Regions from separate parts of the Homo sapiens genome. Here region 2 is linked to region 1. The links come from fine-mapping of genetic effects on gene expression. A gene starts in region 1. The other region holds a variant in brackets. All regions are shown on one strand. Distances are from middle to middle. Region 1 holds the start of ZBTB20-AS1 (ZBTB20 antisense RNA 1). Region 2 overlaps ZBTB20 (zinc finger and BTB domain containing 20).

Region 1 (4,397 bases):
CATGGTTGCTGTAAGATTAAATGAAATCATATACAGAAAGCAGTTAGAACTGTAACCCCTAAAAAATGTTATCTTGTGATTACTATCATGGTATGTATGTATGGCGAACTCAGCAAGAACTTGAAATTTGGTCTGCTGCTGATTGAGCTCCTGAACAGCCCTTCCTGGGTTATTTGTGCCTTCTTTTGGGGCCATATTTTGTGTTCACATGGTTACAGGGGATTTACCTTAATTCTTTAATCTGGCAAAGAGAACTTGTCTTATATAAGTAAAAACGATGGAATCTGTAGCCTAATACAATATTTTAGGCACATAACAGACCTGATAGAGTCAGAACGAGAAAGAATGCTCTTATACAAATTAGTGCAAATTGTATTATTGAACATTTATTAAGTTAAGCTCATACCATGTGAGGGTGATTGAGTGAAGCAAGGTAGAAACGCTCATTGAACTCAGAGTTTCCTGAACAAGTCTTCTATCGCAAGGTAGAGCGGAAAGAGTTTGAGGAGGTAGGCCTTCTTCCTATCTGCAGGCTGTTACCTCTCAGGTGGCTTCTCACAAGACAGAGAGATTTGGGTCCAGGCCAACAATCAGTGCTTGGGCCATTTGGTTTTGAAAGCCCACTTATTTCACTTTCCCAAGCTGATTGTTCAGTTGTAAAGGCAAGAATGGGGAATCTGATTGAAGAATTATTTGGAGGGGGATTCTCTAGAGCCATCTGAGAGATGAGCTAGAAAAATAGAAAAGCCCTAAGATCTACTGCTGTAGCCACCTGTTTTCTTTCTCATTCTGAATCCAAATCTTATCAATAGTATCCCTTGCCATAACAGCCTACGTTATAGGGTGGCGCTGGGTCAGGCTATCCGCAGCCTCCACATAGCTGTTGCCTTCCTCCTGGGAGCTGTTTAATACTTCCCTGTGGCAAGTACATAAAGCACCCTATTACCCAAGGAGATCATATATCCCACTTCTGGCTTACTCCTGCTATCCTGGCCTAATTATTAACAATGCTCTCTTTCACTCTTGAAAGTGCCCTGTTTGCATAATAAATATGATCACCAATGTACTGTAGTCTCCTGGGTCAGAACTGCCATCTCTGACCTTTTTAACATTCCTCCTTCATTAAGCCTCAGAAAATTCAGAAAACCTTCCATATCACATGCAACCACCCTAGAAAGTGCTCAAACAGGTTGTCAGAGATGACAAGAAGAATGAGTAGATACAGAAAGCAGCCATGGAGTGCCCCTTTAGCTAGCAGATTGCTTTCTGTAGCCCATCCATCATCCGGAAAGCATGATCATGACTGTTTGGTAGATATCTTAGTCTGGGTTGAATTTTCCAATAATTTTTGCATACATGGTGTGGGTTTTGATAATATGCCATATGACTTAATAGGAAGGGGGTTTATTTGTTAACTATGAATATGGTCACTGTGTATGAATAAAATAAGGGACTTTGATAAGTTGGGGGAAATGTAAACTTTCCCAAAGAATCTGGGCTTAGGCCTGTCTAAAGTGAAGGCAAAGTAAATAAATACATAAATAAAAATAAAGTGGAGGTTTAGTGTTCCATAAGAACAAGTCTTCCATTTGCCTTTCAGTTCTTTGCTGAAGCTGTAGGAATAGCAGGCAAACAAATCATCTGGTTATTAGGCCACTCTACCTCAGCCGAAGCTCTGGGGAGTTAATATGGATACCCAAAATGGCTGCGGCACTAAAGGCCGGAATTGGAGCAAAATTCAAGGTCCTTTTCCCTCAGGTCATCGTACCTACAGCTTGTATGCCGCAGCCTGTCCATCTCCCCACTTGCGTATGTAAGGGCAGTGCTTCTAGGAGCCATGAGCATTACTCACCTGAAACCTAGGTGTTAGGAATGCAACCAGCTAGATCTGACCCATGCCCTGTTTTGTGTCTGCGTTGACATGCTGCAGGTGACATCAGTTGCAAGGGGATGACCGAGCGCATTCACAGCATCAACCTTCACAACTTCAGCAATTCCGTGCTCGAGACCCTCAACGAGCAGCGCAACCGTGGCCACTTCTGTGACGTAACGGTGCGCATCCACGGGAGCATGCTGCGCGCACACCGCTGCGTGCTGGCAGCCGGCAGCCCCTTCTTCCAGGACAAACTGCTGCTTGGCTACAGCGACATCGAGATCCCGTCGGTGGTGTCAGTGCAGTCAGTGCAAAAGCTCATTGACTTCATGTACAGCGGCGTGCTACGGGTCTCGCAGTCGGAAGCTCTGCAGATCCTCACGGCCGCCAGCATCCTGCAGATCAAAACAGTCATCGACGAGTGCACGCGCATCGTGTCACAGAACGTGGGCGATGTGTTCCCGGGGATCCAGGACTCGGGCCAGGACACGCCGCGGGGCACTCCCGAGTCAGGCACGTCAGGCCAGAGCAGCGACACGGAGTCGGGCTACCTGCAGAGCCACCCACAGCACAGCGTGGACAGGATCTACTCGGCACTCTACGCGTGCTCCATGCAGAATGGCAGCGGCGAGCGCTCTTTTTACAGCGGCGCAGTGGTCAGCCACCACGAGACTGCGCTCGGCCTGCCCCGCGACCACCACATGGAAGACCCCAGCTGGATCACACGCATCCATGAGCGCTCGCAGCAGATGGAGCGCTACCTGTCCACCACCCCCGAGACCACGCACTGCCGCAAGCAGCCCCGGCCTGTGCGCATCCAGACCCTAGTGGGCAACATCCACATCAAGCAGGAGATGGAGGACGATTACGACTACTACGGGCAGCAAAGGGTGCAGATCCTGGAACGCAACGAATCCGAGGAGTGCACGGAAGACACAGACCAGGCCGAGGGCACCGAGAGTGAGCCCAAAGGTGAAAGCTTCGACTCGGGCGTCAGCTCCTCCATAGGCACCGAGCCTGACTCGGTGGAGCAGCAGTTTGGGCCTGGGGCGGCGCGGGACAGCCAGGCTGAACCCACCCAACCCGAGCAGGCTGCAGAAGCCCCCGCTGAGGGTGGTCCGCAGACAAACCAGCTAGAAACAGGTGCTTCCTCTCCGGAGAGAAGCAATGAAGTGGAGATGGACAGCACTGTTATCACTGTCAGCAACAGCTCCGACAAGAGCGTCCTACAACAGCCTTCGGTCAACACGTCCATCGGGCAGCCATTGCCAAGTACCCAGCTCTACTTACGCCAGACAGAAACCCTCACCAGCAACCTGAGGATGCCTCTGACCTTGACCAGCAACACGCAGGTCATTGGCACAGCTGGCAACACCTACCTGCCAGCCCTCTTCACTACCCAGCCCGCGGGCAGTGGCCCCAAGCCTTTCCTCTTCAGCCTGCCACAGCCCCTGGCAGGCCAGCAGACCCAGTTTGTGACAGTGTCCCAGCCCGGTCTGTCGACCTTTACTGCACAGCTGCCAGCGCCACAGCCCCTGGCCTCATCCGCAGGCCACAGCACAGCCAGTGGGCAAGGCGAAAAAAAGCCTTATGAGTGCACTCTCTGCAACAAGACTTTCACCGCCAAACAGAACTACGTCAAGCACATGTTCGTACACACAGGTGAGTGTCACCCCACCTGGAGGCCTGGCAGCAGGGGCTGAGGGGGCTGTGGGAAGGCAAGGTAAGAGAGCAGGTAGAAGGGAAGGTTTGGGATCATCTTTCAGATTTTAAACAGACCCCACCACAAGCCTCTTCTAGAAACCCCAACTGTGTTCCTCCCATCATAAGAACAAAGCACCCTGCCACCAAGAGACACCGTCACAGGAACCCTTTATGGAGAAGGGATGTCCTAGGGATGTCCAGACTGCAGAAGAGAAGACTCAGGTCATTATATAAGCCATATTCAAGTATTTGTGTTTCAGAGGCAGCATACTGTAGTCAGGAAGAGCTTGAGCTCTTACACCCAGCCAGATGGCCTGGGTGTAAATTCAGGCTTAGCTACTACTAAACCTTGTCGCCTTGGAAAAATTACTTAACTTGTCTATACTTCAGTTTCCTTGTGTATAAAATGAGAATAATCGTGATACGCCTTCCTTATAGTGCTGTTTTGAGAATAAATTAATACATGTGAAGTCTTTAGAGTACTTCCAAGCATATAATAAGTGCTCTATAAGTGGTAGCTATTATTAAGATGGTTAAGAGGAGGAGACATTCAGTTTGTATAGTTTGGCTCCAAAAGGTGGAACTAGACCAATGATTGGATGCTATCAGGAGATCCTTTCCACAAAATAAAAGAAAAATTTTGTTAACAATCAGATCTGCTCTAATATCAGATAGACTGCCTTTAAATGGAGTGAGTTTCTGTAATTAGACGCATTCAAGGAGAGAATGGATGAACATTTTTAGGGATTTTGTACACAGGATTCAGTCATCAAGATGGGCAAGATCATGTTTCATCCCTGGATTCTATGATTCCAGAGCT
Region 2 (4,397 bases), 37 kb before region 1:
GGACTGGGGTAGACAAAGCCTGAGGAGAGGATCTAGAGGAATGTCTACATTTAGAGAACAGAAGAAAGAAAATAAGCCAGTGAAGAAGGCAGAATAGCAGACTGAGGTATAGGGGAAAAAATAGGGTAATTCGGTGTCCTCAGGGTTAGAGCCTATGGAAGAAAATGGAGCCTTTGCAGTGAAGGACAGAGGGAATGCTCAGAACATGCCCAGATCAATGGGTGTCACTAGAATACATTAAGAACTAAGCAATAAAGAGAGAGACTGAAATGAAATCAAGAATATCAGAAATGTGGTAAAAGTACACAATGGAACACTATTCAGCCTTCAAAAAGAAGGAAATCTTGTCATTTGCAAGAACATGGATGAATCTAGAGGTCATCCATGATATATGGGGAAAAAATAGGCTTTTTTTTGTACTAGAAAAGCCAGGCACAGAAAAACAAATACCACGTGACCTCACTTATATGGGGAATCTATAAAAGCTTAATTTATAGAAGCAAAAATTAGAATGGTGGCTGCCAGACGCTGAGGAGACATCAGTCAAAGGACACAAAATTTCGGTTAGACAGGAGGAATAACTCCAGAGATGTACTGTACATCCTCATGACTATCGTTAATAAGAATGTAGTATATATTGAAAATTACTGAGAGTAGGTTTTACGTGTTCTCACCATGAAAAAGTGATAAATACATGAGGTAATTCTTTTTTTTTTTTTTTTTTTTTTGAGATGGACTCTTGCTCTGTTGCCAGGCTGGAGTGCAGTGGTGCAATCTCGGCTCACTGCAACCTCCGCCTCCCGGGTTCAAGCGATTCCCCTGCCTCAGCCTCCTGAGTAGCTGGGACTACAGGCGTGCGCCATCACGCCTGGCTAATTTTTTTGCATTTTAGTAGAGACGGGGTTTCACTGTGTTGGCTGGGATGGTCTCGATCTCCTGACCTCGTGATCCTCACACCTCGGCCTCCCAAAGTGCTGGGATTACAGGTGTGAGCCAGCACACCCAGCCGGTAATGCATATTTTAATTAGTTTGATTTAGCCATTCCACAATGTATACATGTATCAAAACATGTTTTATACCATAAATATATACAATTTTTATGTGTGAATAAAAAATAAATAAATATAATAAATGAAAAAAAAAAGAAAAGGATACTAGAAGAATCAACTGTGGGAAGGTTGAAGGACACTGTTTCTACTTCCTTCCCCCACTGTCACCCACAACTCAGCTTCTAAGTCAGAACCACAAAATCAGCTCCGCCCGCACTGACAGGGTACTGTTGATGTCCCAGGCTGCACAGGCAGTTAGGTGAAAGCACTGAAAATGGAGCCTGGACAACATCCTCTCCATTCTCCCTTCCGTACCTCGCCATTCTCTGGTGCAAAGATGTAGAACCAAACAACCAACCTCTCACTCAAGTCCCAAAGTTCTTTCCTATCAAAATAAATAATTGCCATCACCATCACCTGTTCATTTAACAACCTTATTTTTGTTTTTTGTCTGATCTAGATGCAGCCGCTCTCTGCTCCCTGCCCCAATGAACATCTGCACTAGGCCCAAGCCTTGGAGTAATTTACCTGAAGAGTGACACCATTGATTTTGAAACTACTGTGAGTACATTATGTCTCCAATAAAAGGCTTCTTAGTTCACTTTGTTTAATA[C/A]ACACACACACACACAGAAAATTGTGAAAGCAGGCAAAATTTTAGATGGCTTCATTTCTTGGATCAGCAGGGTAACCAGACTCAGTCCTGAGGTGCCCACAGCGGTTCTCAACTTCCCGGCTGCAGTGCACACCATGTGCATTATCATTCCCTCCTGGCCAGATGGCTGTGCTGAGCTGTATCTGAGCACACCTTGCAGGGACTGGTGCTGTTCTGCTTGGTCATCTGTGCCTCTATGTACGGTGGTGGCAGCTTCTCCTAATCTGTTTGCTTCTCATCATCCTTCCGTGCCACTGTTGAATCTCATGGTAGCTTGTCATTTCTTGCCACCCTGGTCAAATCTGTGACCAGCAGCTTTGCTTGGTTTTATTTACCTGTTGTCTGAGCTGCAACCCATGCTGTTGTCTCCTTGCTGCCCTTCCCTTGGAGCTCTGGCCTCCTTCCACCACATCTCTAAGCCACTTGTATCCAGCTCACCTCTGCTCTCTGGATGTATGGGTCTGTGTAGTTGATTTAGTTCCCGCCATGCAAGGCATTTATGTAGGAGAAGTAGAGACCTTGCAAGGAAAAGTACAGAAATAATTTGGGGTAGGGGATATGATACCTATGGGAAAATACTGATGAAAGTTTGATATCAAGTATTCATTAATCATTGCTGAAATAACAGATGAATATATGCTATTTTCCAATAGAAAAGCCAGTCATTTGAATTATTTAGAAGTTCTGCATGCAAAGTAACTTAATTACACATTTTAAAACAATAACTAGTTGTTATATTCACAAGTTTTCCTATATGTTATGAGGCAGGTAATGGGATGGTGTTTTACAGACTTCTATGTTACTGGAAAACGCTAAACCTGGGAGACTAACATCCCTCTTAGGCTTCAGGTAGGATATTTACATTCATATTTCTATGTCTTTAGCTATTCTGGTATAAATCAAACCTAAAGGGATGAAGCCAGAGTTTTGCTTTATTTTGTGTTGCTTTTTTACCTTTAATGCTTCCAGTCAACTGAATCATAGTTGATGGGGGCTGCTGTGTAGGTGATAGACAGGCCTGCCTTTCCCGGAGGGGAATGTGTTCTATAGTACTAATAGGACTGAGTTACTGGGGACTAAAGACATGACAGAAGATCAAACATAGTTTCTTCAGTCCACACCCACACAAGGAACTTACTTGTATATACCTTCATTCATCCTTAAGTTCAAGTGCAAGGAATACCCGAGAAATTCCCACATCTGGATAGTTTTCTGAGTTTTTCTTCATCACAGAGTAACTATGCTGATACAGATAACACAGCCTTACTATGATGCAGATGGGTTTAAAAGTTTCTATATCCTTTAAGAGGGAAAAGAGTTCTTATCACTCTTACCTTCCTGTGCTACAGAGAACCCAGATCCAGACCTAGAAATCAGGAGCTGATGTTGCCTACAGATTACAGAGAAGTCCACAAGTGAGCATGTATTCCTGTCGTAGGAAGTATTTCATCTGTGCAGAATGCCAGTGCCTGCTTTTACTTCTCATGGGCCCTAGAGAATGGACAGACTGGGTTATAATCTTTGCAGTCTTTGCTATTCAGAAACTTGGCTTTCCAATGCATAAAAGAGAAATAATAATAATAAAACAGAAACTTGCTAGGTGCAAAAATCAATAAAGAGGATAAAAAATTAAAATGTGAATCATTTACAGAAGTATATCTCTTCTGGTGGGTTGACAATGCTTCGGGCCTAGTCACAAGGCTTGGAAGTGGGTTGGGGAGGCACATATTAAATTTTAATACCTACCCACCCCCCCCATACCACCTGCACAATAATGCTCAGTGGCCCTGCCTACTTAACCAGATTATTGTGATAAGTCAATGAGATGATATATATATAAAGTCTGTCACGGCAGAGGTGAGTATATTTACTCAGTCATTTAAAATTTGCTGACCATTTACTATGTGCCAGACACTGTTCTAGGAACTAGGAATATGGCAGCAAGCAAAACAAACAAAAATCCCTGCTCGGCTGAGCAGCATTCTCTTTTCTTGCTCTGTGAATGGCAATTCGACATAATAGGTACATGGAAGCTAAGACAGAACCTATTTTATTTTGTTCTGTCTTTCCTTCCAGAAAGTATAATTGAAAGTATAAGAGAGAAGAACACATATGTTGATTAGTCTTGCCACCCCATTCTACCCCCAAAAAAACCCCAGAACCATTCTTTTGCCCTGATGTGTGACCCAGAAGACTGGCCTTCTGGACTACATTACCCAGGCTCTCTTGTCCTTGGGCTTCCCTTTGAATTTGGCCAAAAGGAGACATCAGCAGGAGATGTGAAAGTGGGGGAAGAGAGAGGTCAGGAAATGTGTTAGTTCAGCCCTCCTTCCCAACTCCAATTCTGACTGGACTCAGAATTCATCACCATTTTACTTGCCCCTTCAGTTTAAATGGTTTAAAGCTTTCCACTACTGCTAGTACCTGGCAGTCTCTACTATTGCTAGTACCTGGTGCTATCTCTCTTGAGGTCCCTTAACCTCATCTGCAGCTCCAAATACAGTTTTTTCATTAAATCCTCTTTAGCTAAAAACTTTGCATGTGCCATCTATTTTTGCCAGGATCCTGACTGATACAGTTAAGAGGAAATTATACTGAAAAAAAAATTATAAATCAGCCCTGCCAAGGTTAAAAAAAATAAGATTGAGAAAATAAAATGTGTTTAATCACTAAAATATCTTAAATTGATGTGAGG

Evidence for each region. PIP is the estimated chance that this variant, and not a neighbour inherited with it, causes the effect.
Region 2: its variant is fine-mapped to the expression of ZBTB20-AS1 in whole blood (TOPMed, PIP above 0.99).

The regions. Positions count from the first base shown.
Region 1 is chr3:114,349,412-114,353,808 of GRCh38, reverse strand. It overlaps ZBTB20-AS1 (ZBTB20 antisense RNA 1), which reads right to left and starts at 1,998. Exons shown (of 9, transcript NR_038993.1): 1 at 1,853-1,998. ZBTB20 (zinc finger and BTB domain containing 20) reads left to right here. Exons shown (of 12, transcript NM_001348800.3): 11 at 1,931-3,535.
Region 2 is chr3:114,386,219-114,390,615 of GRCh38, reverse strand. It overlaps ZBTB20 (zinc finger and BTB domain containing 20), which reads left to right. Exons shown (of 12, transcript NM_001348800.3): 8 at 1,511-1,611. It overlaps ZBTB20-AS1 (ZBTB20 antisense RNA 1), which reads right to left. Exons shown (of 9, transcript NR_038993.1): 8 at 3,037-3,193; 9 at 1,638-2,220. Among named protein-coding and RNA genes, the nearest start is that of ZBTB20-AS1, 37 kb to the right of the region's middle. The variant C/A (reference allele first, on the strand shown) is at 1,664.